Regions from separate parts of the Homo sapiens genome. Here region 2 is linked to region 1. Evidence: fine-mapped QTL for protein levels in blood plasma. A gene starts in region 1. The other region holds a variant in brackets. All regions are shown on one strand. Distances are between the middles of the regions.

Region 1 (8,341 bases):
TGGCAGAAGGTTAAAGTCACACCTCACATGGTGGCAGACAAGAGAAGAGAGCTTGTGCAGGAAAATTCCTGTTTTTTTTAAACCATCAGATCTCATGAGAGTTATTCACTATCACAAGAACAGCATGGGAAAGACCCACCCCCATGATTCAATTATCTCCCACCAGGTTCCTCCCATGAGACTTGGGAACTGTGGGAGTTACAATTCAAGATGAGATTTAGGTGGGGACACAGCCAAACCATATCATTCTGCCCTGTCCCCTCCAAAATCTGATGTCCTCACATTTCAAAACCAATCATCCCTTTCCAATAGTCCCTCAAAGTCTTAACTCATTTCAACATTAACTCAAAAGTCTGCAGTCCAAAGTCTCATCTGAGACAAGGCAAGTCCCTTCCACCTATGAGCCTGTAAAATCAAAAGCAAGTTAGTTACTTCCTAGATACAATGGGAGTACAGGCATTGGGTAAATACAGCCACTACAAATGGGAGAAATTGGCCAAAACAAAGGGGCTACAAGCCCCATGCAAGTCTGAAATCCAGCAGGGCAGTCAAATCTTAAAGCTCTCCTTTGACTCCATGTCTCACATCCAGGTCACGCTGATGCAAGAGGTAGGTTCCCACGGTCTTGGGCAGCTGCACCCCTGTGGCTTTGCAAAGTATAGCCTCTCTCCCAGTTGCTTTCACAGGCTGGTGTTGAGTGTCTGCAGCTTTTCCTGGTGCACAGCGCAAGCTGTCAGTGGATCTACCATTCTGGGGTCTGGAGGATGGTGGCCCTCTTCTGACAGTTCCACTAGGTGGTGCCCCACAAGGACTCTGTGTGGGGGGCTCTGACCCCACATTTCCCTTCAGCACTGCCCTAGCAGAGCTTCTCCATGAGACCCCCGCCCCTGCAGCAAACTTCCACCTGGGCATCCAGGCGTTTCCATACATCCTATGAAATCTAGGTAGAGGTTCCTAAACCTTAATTCTCAACTTCTGGGTACCCACAGGCTCACCACCTGGAAGCTGCCAAGGCTTGGGGCTTCCACCCTCTGAAGCAGCAGCCTGAGCTGTACGTTGACCCCTTTTAGCCATGGCTGGAGCAGCTGGAACACAGAGTACCAAGTCCCTAGGCTGCACAGAGCAGAGGAGCCCTGGGCCCAGCCCACAAAACTGTCTTTTCCTCCTAGGTCTCTGGACCTGTGATGAGAGTGGCTGACATGAAGACCTCTGACATGCCGTGGAGACATTTTCCCATTGTCGTGTGGATTAACATTTGGCTTCTTGTTACTTATGAAAATTTCTGCAGTGGAGATTTTCATTTCTATCACATTGTCAGGCTGCAAATTTTCAAACCTTTTATTTTCTGTTTCCCTTTTAAAACGGAGTGCCTCTAATAGCACCCAAGTCACCTCTTGAGTGCTTTGCTGCTTAGAAATTTTTTACACCATATATCCTAAATCATCTCCCTCAAGTTCAAAGTTCCACAAATATCTAAGACGGGGCAAAATGCAGCCAGTCTCTTTTTTTATATATGCTGTGTGGTATGGATTGAAAAATGTACTTATTACATGTGAATATTCAATTGTACCACCACAATTTGTTGAAAAGACTAGGCTTTCTCTACCAACTGCATGTGTACCTATGTTGAAAACCAGTTCCCCACACTGTCTTATTCTGTTTTGTGTTGCTATAACAGAACACCTGGGAATGGGTAATTTATAAAGAAAAGAGATTTATTTAACTCACAGTCTGGCTAGCTGGGAAGTTCAAGGACATGGCTCTGGCTTGTGGTGAGGCTTTTGTGCTAGGCCAAAAGATGGCAGAGAAGGTCAAAGGGGAAGCAGACGCATGCAAAGAGGGAAAACCTGAGGGGCACCCAGCTTTATAACAACCCATTCTCATGGGAATGAATCCAGTCTCGTCAGAGCAAGAACTCACTCACTACTGCAATGGCATCAAGCCACCTACGAGGACAGGACCTTCATGACCCAAATACCTCCCATTAGGCCCCACTTTCCAGCACTGCCACACTGGGGACCAAATTTCAACATGAGTTTTGGTTGGGACAAACCAACCATATCCAGGCCATAATACATACACATGTAAGTCTATATAGAATCTATTCTGTTCCATTGATTTGTTTGCCTTGATACTAATACTCTTTGATAACTCTTTGATAACTATAGCTGTATATCATTCTATAAATCCTAAAGTCGGGTAGTGTTTCTGAGGGGGGTTATCTTGAGACACAAGAAAAAAACTCAGCATGGGCTCATTCTGCCAACTATATAGTTTAACCAGACGAATTCTGGGAAAAACAATGATGACTATTGTCATTACTATTATTTACTATTGTTTGATATTTTTGTTAAAGTAATAAGGAAAAAAACCTCAGAAAATAAGTATAAATATAAGAAAGAAAAGATCATTTTCTGCCATAGACATAATTATACATCTTGAAAATAAAAGTCAACCCACTGGAAATACTTGTGGAATACTTTGTTTCCTTTTCTCTATTTTCTGCACCATTAAAAAGCACATTCCTAAACATATGAAAATATACAAACATTTTTAAAGTATTATTTGAATTATCTAGGTTCTGAGTCCACTCATTGTATTTGAGTTAAAACTTCATTCTGCATAGCTCTTTAATCCTGATAATCGAGGCATTTCCTATATTCTGCATTTTTCAAGTGGCAAGGTGTTGTGGAAAGGGCACAGGCTTTGAATCCTCACTCTGCATCTTAAGATCTGTGTGAATAAGTTATGTAACTGATCTGGGTCTATTTCCTCATAAGTAAAATAAGGATGATACCTGTGGGTCAATTGCATATAGCAACTTGCACATAGTAGAACATTAATAAAACACAGCTCTGATTTTGATTACAAAACAGGCTTCCAACAGGACATCACTCTGTTCCATCAAGGAGCATGAACCTTTCTGCTTTTTTTTTTTTTTTTTTTTTTTTTTTTTTTTGACACAATGTCTCACTCTGCCATCCAAGCTGGAGTGCAGTGGCACTATCTGGGCTCACTGCAACCTCTGCCTCCTGGGCTCATCCCACCTCAGCTTCCTCCCACCTCAGCTTCCCAGGTAGCTAGGACTACAGGCATGCACCACCATGCCCAGTTAAATTTTTTGTATTTTTTTGTAGAGATGGGGTTTCATCATGTTTCCCAGGCTGGTCTCAGGCAGCTCGGCTCAAGTGATCTACCTGCCTCAGCCTCTCAAAGAGCTGGGATTACATGCATGAGCCACCATGCCAGGTCACCTTTCCTGCTTTTTATGTTTTTCTAGATTTCTGATTACTCTAGTCCCTCCAATCTTGATTACATTGCCTTGGTCTCTTCCCAAATCTCTCTTCAACTTTGATGTGTCAGAACACTTCACGACTCTACCATTCAGCATTACATTCTGGGACTCCTCCGCTTGTATTATTAAACACTACATCACTCTCAAAAGCCATACCCCTTGTCTTATTTGCAGATTATTCTTTCTCCTCTGACATTATCACATTGTATTATTCTGATGAAAAGTTGCCTATTAAACAAATTATAAATATTATATTCAATCATCCTTTCAATAAGTGGCAAATAATTTTGGAGATATGTTAAGGCCTTAAATTTCAAGGTTAGAGATTAGATTTCATGCTGTGGGTAATGAAGGGTCATTGGAAACTATTGAATGAGCTGAGGATTAAACTACGAAGTGTAGGTGGGAGGCTCTGAAGGGGGGCAACTAGTTAGGTAACTCTGAACAACAGTTTCTAAAGTAGTGAGAATCTAAACTAGAGAAATGGCACAGGGACTGGAGGGGGTGAGGACCTCTTTTAGATGATTTTATGGAGTTAGAGTTTAATTTATGGAGGCAGTGAATGTAGCAGCCAAAGAGTAAAAAAATGTTCTCAAGGTTTTGAGTACTATGTGACCAAGAAGATACTACTAAATCTTGCAAAAATTCACTATTCTTACATTTTTAGTTTTCAGCTTCCTCACTGCAAACTTTGAATGGATCCTTTAAAAAATCCCTCTCTAGCAGTTCAAGTGTATTTGTTATGGGCCACAGAAGTATGTTGAATAATAGAAGTCAGAAGGACGGAAGAAAGAAATAAAGGGTATAATATTGTTACAAAGTATCTCAAACAAAATGTCTTTTTAACCAGTAAATTTTAACACTATCCAAACACTCTCCCAGAGATGACAAAGTCAAAAGTTTAGAAATGCTGGTCTTAATTAGTGAAGCAATGTGAAAAAACTCAGTGATCTTGACCCCTAGCCAATAATGATACGTTGTGCACGGAATGCCACCAAACCCTTAAGATTGAAACTCTTCAACAAGGGTCTTAGACTCACAAGTCAATTAAATGTTGTTAATTAATCTTCCAATAAAATTAAATTGTTATACCAAATTCAAAGTCAAGATTTACTATAAAATATTAAGTAGTAAAATTAATATTGATCCAATATATAAAAGGCAAAGCAGCTTGTGATTGCATAATCATAGCATAAACTACGTTTATGCTAAGATTTATTTCAATGTGTTTGAAACTACAGGCTCTGAGAGAGACAGGCCTGATTTACATCCCGTTTCCACTGTTTACATGTTGTGTAACTTCGAGCAAGTTGCCATCAGTTTCATCACCTGGGTTGCCACGAAGGTTAAACAATGAATGTAAGCCCCTTAGAGCACAATGAACACAATAAATGTTAGCAGCTCTTATTAATAGTGTTGTTCGAGAGAAAAAGAACATATTGTTTTATATACAATGTATTTATTAACACTTAACGCATCTGTATTTGTCATATACACACACCAGACAGGAAAGCTCCTTATTAATCACCATGACTGCAGATCTGTTAACATCTAGAACTCTGGAGAAAACCTAGAGCCCTAATCTTGCTGCACTTATTACTGGACGTTGTTCATAAATATGATTTACATAAAATTCAGGACCCAATCATTGCGCAACAGGAGGTAGCACGGTCTGCAGAGAGGGCGGGAGCTCAGAGGAGGAAAAGTCTTCGGACTTGCAGGGGGAATTCCTCCTGGGCTAACCCGGGAGCGGGGTCCAGGCCACAACCGGCCGGCGGCGGCACAGGCTCCATGTGCGGCTCCCCCTGGAGGCGGTTGAGCCCCTCGGAGCAGGAGCGCGTAGCACACACCTCGGGCCGCCACCGCCTCCCGCCCGCCACCGCACGCGCACGCGCGGTTAGTAGTCGCTGCTGCGCGGCCGCCGGCGGGACTGGTCTGAAGAGACGCGGGGACCAAGTGGCAACGACTTGGACATCTGAGCTGTCACTGCCGAAAACAGGCCGCAAGAGAGGTGCGTGAGCAGCAGGCCGCGTTCCCGCTGTCCCGCTGCCCTTTGCGCGCAGATTGGGGTGAGGAAGCGGAGTCGTTGCTGCTTCCCCCAGGCACCCCGTTACTTTGCCGCCAGAGGGCTGAACCGGTCGGGGCCAAGTGAGGGTGGATGTTGAGTCTGGCGATGGGGCTGCAGCGAGCTAGGGTCTTGACTGGGCTCTGGCGGCCCCGTGGGTGGACGCAGGAGGTGGTGCCACCTGGGACCCTTTGTGTCTTCAGCACCGCCGCATCCACCTGCTGCGCCCGGGCTGGGGCGGACGAGCACGGGGACAGCTAGGTGCCTAGCCCGGCCGGCCTCCCCTGCGGGCTTGAGGAGCCACCGGGAGCCGAGGCCGTTATTCCAGCGGTTGCCATTGCAGCCCCGTTCCACGCTTGAGCCCGGGGCGCTCTCCCAATGGTTGTAGAGGGGGCCCGGGGCGCGTCTGGGCGCTGCTCACTCTGCTGACTGCTCCTTACAGAAACCCAAACGAGATCAAAATAGGCTCGGCTGTCTCAGTCTCCACCTATGTGGAAGCGAAGGGACCCCACTTCACGGCGGTGGGGCCAGGGACTGTTGGCCGCTCCCTCGATACCCGCGCAGAGCCCATTGTGCGCCGCCGGGGGGCGGGCGAAAGGGCTGGGTTGAATCCAGAGAGGCCCTAATTACTAGACTCATTATCGCCCCAGGCCTGTTTACCATCAATCAGACACTTTCGCTGATTTTATTTATAGCATCTGCCCAAGCAACAAAGAGGAGGTGTTTGCTTGGGAGTTAAAAGCAAATGGCAACCAAAGCTCAGGACTGGGAGAGAAAAGGTAAATAACGTGGCCACAGGAAGAAGTCTCAAATTAGAAAAGAGTTCATTAACGTATAAACTTTTTGTTGCTTAAAAGCAGGCAAAATCCCGATCTCATCTGATGATTTTGCTTGTTTTACAAATGTCGACATCACTCGAGGTAGCCCTCCTTTGGGTCATTGTAAGTTTGACCTGTTTTCAGTTTGGAGTTTTGCCTTCACGTCTTATTGGTTTGATCTTCCAGTAACATTTAGATCTCATCTCCAAATCCTCAGAACAAGATATTCTGTACTCTCTGTCTTAGCTAGTTGATAAGGTTAATTATTGTGTGTAAATGATGTAAGTATGTTGATGCATTTGTCTAGAAATTGAAGTGTTGTAAGTTAGCTGTAGTACTTTTTAAGTACCTAATAAATACTGGTGTTTTTAAATAGAAAACTAGAATTATGAACTTTAAAGAATCTTTGGATTGTCTAGTTCACGTCACAAATGAGAAAACAGGCCCACAGCAGTTTTTATCACTTGTCTTTTTAATAATAAAACTAGAAACTTGGTGCGATTGTGCCATGTTGGGTGTACTTTTTATTATATCATTCTACATTGCATTCCTGAAGCCACATGACAACTAAAACTTTAAGTAATAGGTGATTGTCAAACACCACTTCTGGAATATACCAGTGTTGGTCGGATCCTCAGTCAGCCATTAAAACTGAATAACAGCAGAAAGGCATCGCAGTTATAAGAAATAGCATGTACAAAAAGTGTGTTAAATAGGTGTGTTGAGAGTGAAAGAAGGCCCGGCGCGGTGGCTCACGCTTGTAATCCCAGCACTTTGGGAGGCCGAGGCGGGCGGATCACCTGAGGTTAGGAGTTGGAGACCAGCCTGACCAATATGGTGAAACCCCGTCTCTACTAAAAATACAAAAATTAGCCGGGCATAGTGGCGCGCGCCTATAATCCCAGCTACTCGGGAGGCTGAGACAGGAGAATCGCTTGAACCAAGGAGGCAGAGGTTGCAGTGAGCCGAGATTGTGCCACTGCACTCCAGCCTGGGTGACAGAGCAAGACTCCATCTCAAAAAAAAAAAAAAAAAAAAAAAAGGAATTACAAAAATGTGTCACAGAAACATAAAGTGACTATAGTGTTGGAAAAATGGCAGCTGTAGACTTGTTCAATGCAGTGTTGCCAGAAACCTTCAATTTGTGAAAAATGCAATAAATCAACGTGCAGTAAAATGAGGTATGCCTGTATGTACACACACACACACACACACACACACACACACACACACACCCTATTGATTCTGCTTCTCTGATGAACTCTGACTAATAAAATGACTCTCCTCCAAGTAATGATTCAGGGATTCTGCAACTTCCTACCTTGGAATTTTGCCGTTTTCAACCATGACCTTCAAAATTGCTTGCATCAAACCAGAAGGGGAAAGATCATAAAGAATTATAATTCATAATTATAGGAAGTTTTTATGGGCAAGGGCTGACAATGGCATACAGGTCTTCTATTTACATTCTGTTGGCTGGAACCAGGTAATGGTCACATCTAGTGCCAAGGAAATTACCCTTGTGATCAGCCAGCAACTTCTCCCACACTATACAACACATATTGCATATCCTGTGATTGTCTTTTCTTTGTGTGCCTTACTTACCTTTGATGTGACAGTGAGCATTACTTCAATACCAGTACATGAGCTGCACTTTATAATTTGTAATTTGGGGGTGGTAGTGGAGATCCAGTAGGGTTTTTAGGAGATATTGGTGTAATTATTTAAAGTAGACCAGACTACTTGATCTAGATTTCAAAGATTGGGAAGAATGGTATCTCATTCATGGATAAAGTTACTTGTGCTTCAATTTGTTATTGAACTACCACAGAAGCAGTGCAGAGAACATACATGAGATCAAAGATACGTGTTGGTGCAGAAGGATGTAGTTCTTCAGTGCCTCCCTTCTTATGAAGGCACAACTGATATTTAGTGATCTCAGCAAGCCTCATGGAGTGAGGAATACATAAGAAGCTTGGAACCCTGGGCATGCTACCTTTTAATTTATAAGGAGGGAAGAGGGTGACATTAGCACTAAATGTTCTACCCTATACCATATAAACAAATTCTTGCTGTACTAAAATTATATAACTTAAACAACCATACAGATCAATAAAGAAATAGATAACACCACAAGCCAACTAAACATAATAAACATATGGA
Region 2 (8,345 bases), 30 kb after region 1:
TTGACAGCCATTTCCTTGTTGATTTTTGTCACATATAATTCGTTAATTTAACAACAAAAAATCTCGTAAGTCTATGCCTCATTGCCATAGCAAGGCTATTTCCTTTTAAAGTTACCAATAAAGAAAAAAAAACTTTGCTGAGAATTACACTGTGTTGTAAATTCATAAGAGACTCTCATGTTCATTCTTTTAGCTGTTATACTAAACAGTGAAAATTTCCCATATCTCCTGGCTGTTTAGGTCTGAAATCCAGCTTATTGACTGAGATTATGAATCTCTTTGCTGGAGCTATTTAATTAAATGTACAACTTATTTAACATGGTAAGGTGTAATGAACTCTAGGTATCTAAGATCATTAGCAATTTCGTAGAAATCTTGCTGTAGCTGTGGTTCTTACGGCCTTTATTTTTTTTTAGTTTATAAAGTGTAAGTATAGTGCTTACCTTATCAGAATTTGAAATTTCCTGTTGTAGTTTTAGTTACAGTATCTTATGCTTAATTTATCAGTTTTGATGGAAAAAAATTTAAACAAATTGATTGGTTTGTCTGCAGTTGATTGTAATCATTCTATTTTTAATATTTTAATGATGTGTCTTGTTTTAGAGTAGTAGAAAAGCGTTTCTGCTTATTTCCTATAGGTTGTAGATATGCTTTATATGAGTTTTCTGATAATGTAAAAAAATTTATACTTACATGAATTGAGAATAATAAGATTATATTTTAAAGAGCAACTAGTAAATTTTATTTATCAGTAGTACGGTTCTTTTTCCCTTTATTCAGATATGAAGTAAATTTTCAAGATGGTATTGATTGTGGAGGTGCATACATTAAACTCCTAGCAGACACTGATGATTTGATTCTGGTATGATATTTTAATATTTAAGAAAACCTTATTAAAGTTAATAAGTATTTTTAAGGAACAAATGATAAAACTGAATATTTTGTCTTCAACTGAAATTGAAAAGAATTGTAGATATCTTTTTTCAATGTGAATTTACATAGCTCTTACAATTCGCCTTCAAGTTTTATATAAAGCTGTGTTACTTGAAGGCATCAATTTTATAATCTTTAACAACATGAAAAAGTTTACCATGTCTGTAGGACAAAAACTACGTGATACTTATAAATTTCTTTTGAAATATAGCTTAGAGTTATTTTCTTTACAGAATAAGACTCTTAAGTTTGTTTAGAGAAGCATAACAAAGCATAGCAGTGAAACAAAATGGCCGAAGAACCAAATTAAAAGGGGTTAGCAACCCACAGAAAGTAACTAATTTTAAAAACTTTTCATGATGAAATAGGTTTATACTTCTAAGAGGTTGTATTAGGACCATTGGAAAGTTGGGGATATTTCTTATAGCCTTCTCCTGTAAAAGGCTGTTTCAGACTTTCTGCATATAACAGAAATACGATAGATGAGACATCAGGGGTATATTTTTCAGAACACTTAGCTGTACATAAGCTATGAAATGTAGATGGGAGACTTTTTCATGTACTACTCATTATTATTAGGATCAAGTGAAGGAGAGGCCATTGGAGTATATGTTGAAGCTCTTGTTTTAGATGAACACTTGAAGGTAGGATGACAAAAAAATCTAATGCCAAGTATTTCTATAAGCACTTTATCTGATTAATTCACTTAATCCTTAGAGAACTCTTATAAGGTAGGTACTATTATCATCTCCATACTTCAGAGGTGATGAAATGGAGGTGCAGAGAGCTTTAAAAAATTTGAGTCAGGGTGACACCCAACTAGTTTAAGAGGCAGTGGTAGGATTTGAACCCCAGTATCTGACTCCATGCCCCATGCTGTTAACCACTATGCCATGCCAAATAAAGAGAAATTCATGTCCTCGTGTCTGTTTTTATGTCTGAATGAATCTCTCTTCATCTTGTGCTCAGAGGGTCATTTTCTGGTATCTTCCTAAGTAATAGTAATGGGTGATAATTTTAGTCTTAAGGCCATAAATATGCTTTCCTCTAATGCCTAATTCTCTCAATAAAAATATTAGTAATATAGATTTACATAGAGAGTTAAAGCATATTATGGTGTTGCTAGAGTATTTTCAGCTTCTGTCCCACATCGTCAGGAAGTAGTGTGTACTTAAAAAAATCTATATTGAAGTAAAATTTGTCATTTTCCCATGTCCTTTATTGTCACTTGTATTAAATAGCTAGCTCTCTGGTGAATTACCATTTAATATATTTTTGTAAACTCTACCCATTGGATAAAATACAGAAATGCATTAAATAGTCTGTGATTCTGGACTAATGCCAACACTCATCTCTCTTTGAAGGAAAACTTTTATGATAAAACATCCTATATCATTATGTTTGGACCAGATAAATGTGGAGAAGATTATAAACTTCATTTTATCTTCAGACATAAACATCCCAAAACTGGAGTTTTCGAAGAGAAACATGCCAAACCTCCAGATGTAGACCTTAAAAAGTTCTTTACAGACAGGAAGACTCATCTTTATACCCTTGGTATACCCTTTTAATTCATTCATGTATTCAAAAATATTTGCTGACTATTGATGTATTCATGGCAAGTGCTTTACAAGAAAACAAATGTGTACCCCATCCTGAAGGAGCTTATCTTTTTCAGAAAATAGGACATGTATAATGACAGCACGGGTAGAAAATAAAGTACCATATAAGAAAGAGAGATGAGGCACAGCTAAGAGTTCACAAGCAATATTACTTCCAGCTTAGAGACTTGGAACAAAGCTAGGAAAGATTATATTTGAACTCGTCTTGAAGTACAGATAGAATGTTGAAGACAGTAGGGTGAAAGGACATTTTAGACGTTGTGACAGTGGTGCTGTAAGAACAGAAAACTAGAAAATAAAAAGGAAGAGGCCAGAACAGAAAACTAAAAAATAAAAAGGAAGAGGCCCTTAATGCCAGACTAAAAAGTTTAGACTTTATTCTGTAGGCAGTTGTGATTATTGTTATGTCCTACCTTGTGTTGGTTGTGGCATGTACTTCGAAAGGAGAAGCATTGAGCAGCCATATATTAATATACTTAAGTAAATAGGAATTTGCATAGATATGGGGGTGAGGGACATCATAAGCAGTTGTTTCTCCCATTCTCAAGTATAATGGCTGTAGAGCTCTGGTCAGCCCACTATCAAAATCAGAGCATATTGGAACCTAATAGGACATTTTGAAATGGCCCTATTGGCTTCCTTTCTCACGTCTCAACTCCACCCAAGATTAAAGTATTTCAATCTTTTTCCCCAAATGCTGCAGTGGTAGAAACATTCATTTTGTCTGCTCGGGCAATGCCCATTTCATCTTCAATATCAGATGTGATATAATAAATATCTTTATGAAATAATTGAAAAAACTAGGCATTTGGGGGAACACCAAGTAAACTGTAGAAATAATGAGAAAATATTACTAGAACAGAATAAATTAATTTTTTGTTATACTTACAACACTTTAAGATGGTATCAAAAAAATTAAATGCTGAAAAAGATTAGCTTGTATTTTGTAACTATAAAAGAGTGAAGCTGACTCGTTATGAGTCCCAAAACAGAGCTATTTGGTATTATTTTTTATTTGAGAAGTAATGGAGCATTTTATTGTAAAAAATGCAGTTTAAAACAAAATTTTATCTTTAGGAAATGTATCTAGTGATTTTAGAATGTTTTAGTTCAATACATTGGTTATTCCTCTATTTCTGGTTGGGAAAAAAGCTTTACCCATGGAGTTAAGGGTAGTTACATTATTTAGAAGATTATCTTTAAAGCGTATATCAAAATGATAACTATAATTTATTTAAATTGGTCCCTTAGTGATGAATCCAGATGACACATTTGAGGTGTTAGTTGATCAAACAGTTGTAAACAAAGGAAGCCTCCTAGAGGATGTGGTTCCTCCTATCAAACCTCCCAAAGAAATTGAAGAT[C/T]CCAATGATAAAAAACCTGAGGAATGGGATGAAAGAGCAAAAATTCCTGATCCTTCTGCCGTCAAACCAGAAGACTGGTAAGCAAATAATTCGGTAGCAAAGCATTATCTGGCATAACTAGGTAATGAAACAACATATAAGTGAAGTTTACAACCCATGAAGTTTATTTTTTTAAACATCAGAACTACTTATTTTTAGTATTTTGGGTGAAATATTTTCTAAAATGGATTTTACACTTCCCTCCCTGTAATTTTTTTTTATTTCTATTGATAATTATGTTGCATTTTTTAATATATATTTATTTTTTATGTTTTCAATGCTGTGGATTAAAAATTTCATAAATCCAAAATACCAGTGCTTTAATTTTCATTCCTAGTTTGATCTTTATTGTATGTGTGTGAGAGTCCGAGGTGGGCAGATCACCTGAGGTCAGGAGTTCGAAACCAGCTTGGCCAACATGGCGAAACCCCGTCTCTACTAAAAACACAAAAATTAGCGGGCATGGCGGCGGGTGCCTGTAATCCCAGCTACTCGGGAGGCTGAGGCAGGAGAATTGCTTGAACCCAGGAGGCAGAGGCTGCAGTGAGCCCAAGGTCGTGCCACTGCACTCCAGCCTGGTGACAGAGCAAGATTCTGTCTCAAAAAAAAAAAAAAAAAAAAAAAAGAGTATGTTTGCCCTTAAATGAGAGAAACCACATATAACTGCTTCATTCTGATTGTTGAAATGTGTTAGAATTTGTTTTACAAAGTACTAAAAGAAATGCTCCATTAAATTTTAACTTTTGGTTACTCTGAGCACTCAGAAACTCAAGATGACATTGGTATCAGGCAAGCACAAATCTATACATTTGTAAAGTTGATTATTTCTGTTTATTTTGTAACTCATTTGGAAAATCATGAAGTGTCCTCTTGTTTAAAATTTCTATCTTTCTGTAATGATGAAAATTGTATTAGTAGTTCAGTACTTTATGTTTATATACTTCAGAATTTACTAAGTGTTTTGTTTTTGTTTTTGTTTTTGTTTGAGATGGAATCTCGCTCTGTCACCCAGGTTAGAATGCAATGGCGTGATCTCAGTTCACTGCAGCCTCTGCCTCCTGGGTTCAAGGGATTCTCCTGCCTCAGCCTCATGAGTAGGTGGGATTACAGGCAAGCGCCACCACGCCCGGCTAATTTTTGTATTTTTAGTAGAGATGGGATTTCACCATGTTGGTCAGGCTGGTCTCGAACTCCCGATCTCGTGATCCTCCCGCCTCAGCCTCCCAAAGTGCTGAGACTACAGGCTTGAGCCACCACGCCAGCCTAAGTGTTCTTTTTAAAATAAGAATGCTAGAATTAAATAAGGAGAGTTTTAAAAATTATATTGGAATAGGGAAGAACTTTCCAAATATGACATAAAATCCAAGAATCCTTTAAAAATAAGTTCAACTACATGAAAATAAATGATTTGTATATTGCAAAAAAAAAAACCTCCCTAAACTATTTCAAAAAACACACAAGAACCAGGAAAAATTATTTTCAATCATATAGCTGACAGAGAGCTAATTTCTTAGTATAAAGGTAATGAGCTAAGAAAAAATAGTTTTTGTGTATCACTTATGCTACTAAATGTACATTCAAAGTTCAGTGAGATACCATTTTTCACCTACCACATGGGCAGAAATCAAGAAGTTTGGTAACACTCTTCGCAAGGACAGGAGAAAATAGGTACTTTTGCATGCTGCTGGTAGAACCGGAAGTGGAGTGTAACCATTATAGAGAGTAATTTGGATGCTACTATCAAAATTTAAAATGTCCATACTCTTAACAATTATATTTTCACAGATGAGAAATGGCATATATTCTAGGACATTCACTATGGCATTGTTTGTATTAATAATAGTAAAATTTTGGAAACACTAAATGTCCTCCAAGAGGAGATAAGCTAAATAAATTATGGTGTATCCTCAAGTAGAAAACTATGCAACTGTTAAGAATGAAGCTATGTGTATATATATATATGTGTATATATATATATATACATATATATATATATACATATATATATATATATGTATATATATATGCTCCAGCCAGGCATGGTGGCTCATGCCTGTAATCCCAGCACTTTGGGGGGCTGAGGTGGGTGGATCACCTGACGTTAGGAGTTCAAGACCAACCTGGCCAACATAGTGAAACCCCATCTCTACTAAAAATACAAAAACTTAGCCAGGCGTGGTGGCAGGTGCCTGTAATCCCAGCTACTCTGGAGGCTGAGGCAGGAGAATTGCTTGAACCCGGAAGGCAGAGGTTGCAGTGAGCTGAGGTCGCACTATTGCACTCCAGCCTGGGAAACAAGAACAAGACTCCACCTCAAGAAAAAAATAATAATAATGGAGCTCCTCGAACAGTCTTGACACATAGTAAGCATGCAATATATATTTGTTGATGAATGACTGAGTTTTTAAGTAACAAAAGCAAGGTCTAATACATTATGTATAGAATGCTATCATTCGTATTAAAAAAAAGAATGTATACGTGTGTGCATGTATGCATAGAGCACAACAGGGAATATGTACCAAAAATTGGCAAGTTAGCAAAAGATTTAGGTGGGTAGTAGATGAGGACAAATAACAGGCACAAACAAAAGGGAGGGAAATAATTTTATGGTACCTTCTTAGTGTTGTAACATGCATTTTTAAACTTTCTGAATAATTAGTAATATAAAACGTTGTATTTACAGGGATGAAAGTGAACCTGCCCAAATAGAAGATTCAAGTGTTGTTAAACCTGCTGGCTGGCTTGATGATGAACCAAAATTTATCCCTGATCCTAATGCTGAAAAACCTGATGACTGGTAAGCACTCTTCATCTTCAAATGTCGATTTCAAATGTTTCTTACATGCATTTTTGTTACTAGTTTATATGACTGATCTGAGACTTGAGGTTACTGTATTTGCTTTGTTTTAATATCCTAAGGAATGAAGACACGGATGGAGAATGGGAGGCACCTCAGATTCTTAATCCAGCATGTCGGATTGGGTGTGGTGAGTGGAAACCTCCCATGATAGATAACCCAAAATACAAAGGAGTATGGAGACCTCCACTGGTCGATAATCCTAACTATCAGGTAACAACCGCTTGTTCCAATTATTTAGTGAAGTTAAAAATGTTGTGATCTTTTCTATTTAAATATCTAATTACCTATGTCAACTTTTGGAAGTTTCATTTTTAATTTTAAGATGTCAAAGAAAATAGACCTCAACTAATTTATATTTTAAAAGTAGAGCATCAATTATTTAATTTTCTGGGGAAATAAATCACTTCATACTATATTCTTCCCTAATTATCAGTTGATGCTCACTTTGAAATAAAGTTCTATTTTAGAAGTAAATATAAGAAGTGAATTTTGATCAAATAGACTCATATTGTACATTTTAGTAATTAATGCCTGTGCTTAATTAATGTACTTATTATTTAGTATTATTAAAATTCTGATTTTTGGCCAGGTACGGTGGCTCATGCCTGTAATCCCAGCACTTTGGGAGTCCAAGGCGGGCGGATCACGAGGTCAGGAGATGGAGACCACCCTGGTCAACATGGTGAAACCCTGTCTCCACTAAAAATACAAAAAATTAGCCAGATGTGGTGGCGCACGCCTGTAGTCCCAGCTACTCAGGAGGCTGAGGCAGGGGAATCTCTTGGACCCTGGAGGTGGAGATCGCAGTGAGCTGAGATCGTGCCACTGCACTCCCGCCTGGCGACACAGCAAGACTCAAAACAAAAAAACAAAAAAACAAAAAACCTGGCCTGGCGTGATCTTGGCTCACTGCAGCCTCTGCCTCCTGGGCTCAGGCGATTCTCCTGATTCACCCTCCTACGTAGCTGAGATTACAGGCACACCCCAGCACGCCCGGCTAACTTTTGTATTTTTAGCGGAGACGGGGTTTCACATGTTGGTCAGGCTGGTCTCGAACTCCTGACCGTGATCCGCCCACCTTGGCCTCCCAAAGTGCTCAGGTTACAGAAGTAAGCCACCGAACCCAGCCCTGATTTTTTTCTGATATCAATCGACATCTTTTGAGTGTACCTAGCTTTTTATATTAAAAGTTTCTATGTTATCCACTTAACCCTCTAGTTTTATCTTTGTAATTATTTATGGATACGTTCTAACATTATATATATGCAGTTTCATATTCTAATTACTCACTGTAGTTTTTATTAAAAGCATTTAACACAAAATGTTTCTTTTGGTAAATTTTTTTGTTTGATGTCTGTCTCTTTTATTTGACTTTAAACTCCATAATACAGGAACCATGTATGTCTCCATCATCTGGCATAGTGCCTGGCCCAGAATACATACATGTGATGGTGGAGTGAGTCAGTGAGCAATGATATTGTTGAATGTATTTGATTTAATGGACAGTTTAATCATTTAAGATCTAAT

Direction of the effects. Alleles are on the strand shown, and positions count from the first base shown. The strength of an association depends on the size of the effect and on how common the allele is.
For the plasma level of the protein whose gene starts at base 5,195 in region 1, allele T in region 2 goes with a lower level than allele C (weak association).

Evidence for each region. PIP is the posterior inclusion probability: the model's chance that the variant is causal. Protein levels are from antibody-based Olink assays in UK Biobank. Linkage for the fine-mapping came from a reference panel and not from the study's own genotypes, which makes the PIPs less certain.
Region 2: its variant is fine-mapped to the plasma level of the CLGN protein (UK Biobank, PIP above 0.99). The variant lies in the coding sequence of CLGN. If it changes the protein, the assay may bind it differently, which can mimic a change of level.

What each region holds. Positions count from the first base shown.
Region 1 is chr4:140,424,502-140,432,842 of GRCh38, reverse strand. CLGN (calmegin) reads left to right here and starts at 5,195. Exons shown (of 15, transcript NM_004362.3): 1 at 5,195-5,306. RefSeq lists an enhancer at 5,989-6,038.
Region 2 is chr4:140,394,502-140,402,846 of GRCh38, reverse strand. It overlaps CLGN (calmegin), which reads left to right. Exons shown (of 15, transcript NM_004362.3): 6 at 781-862; 7 at 2,298-2,490; 8 at 3,807-3,996; 9 at 6,642-6,755; 10 at 6,878-7,028. Among named protein-coding and RNA genes, the nearest start is that of SCOC, 25 kb to the right of the region's middle. The variant C/T (reference allele first, on the strand shown) is at 3,920.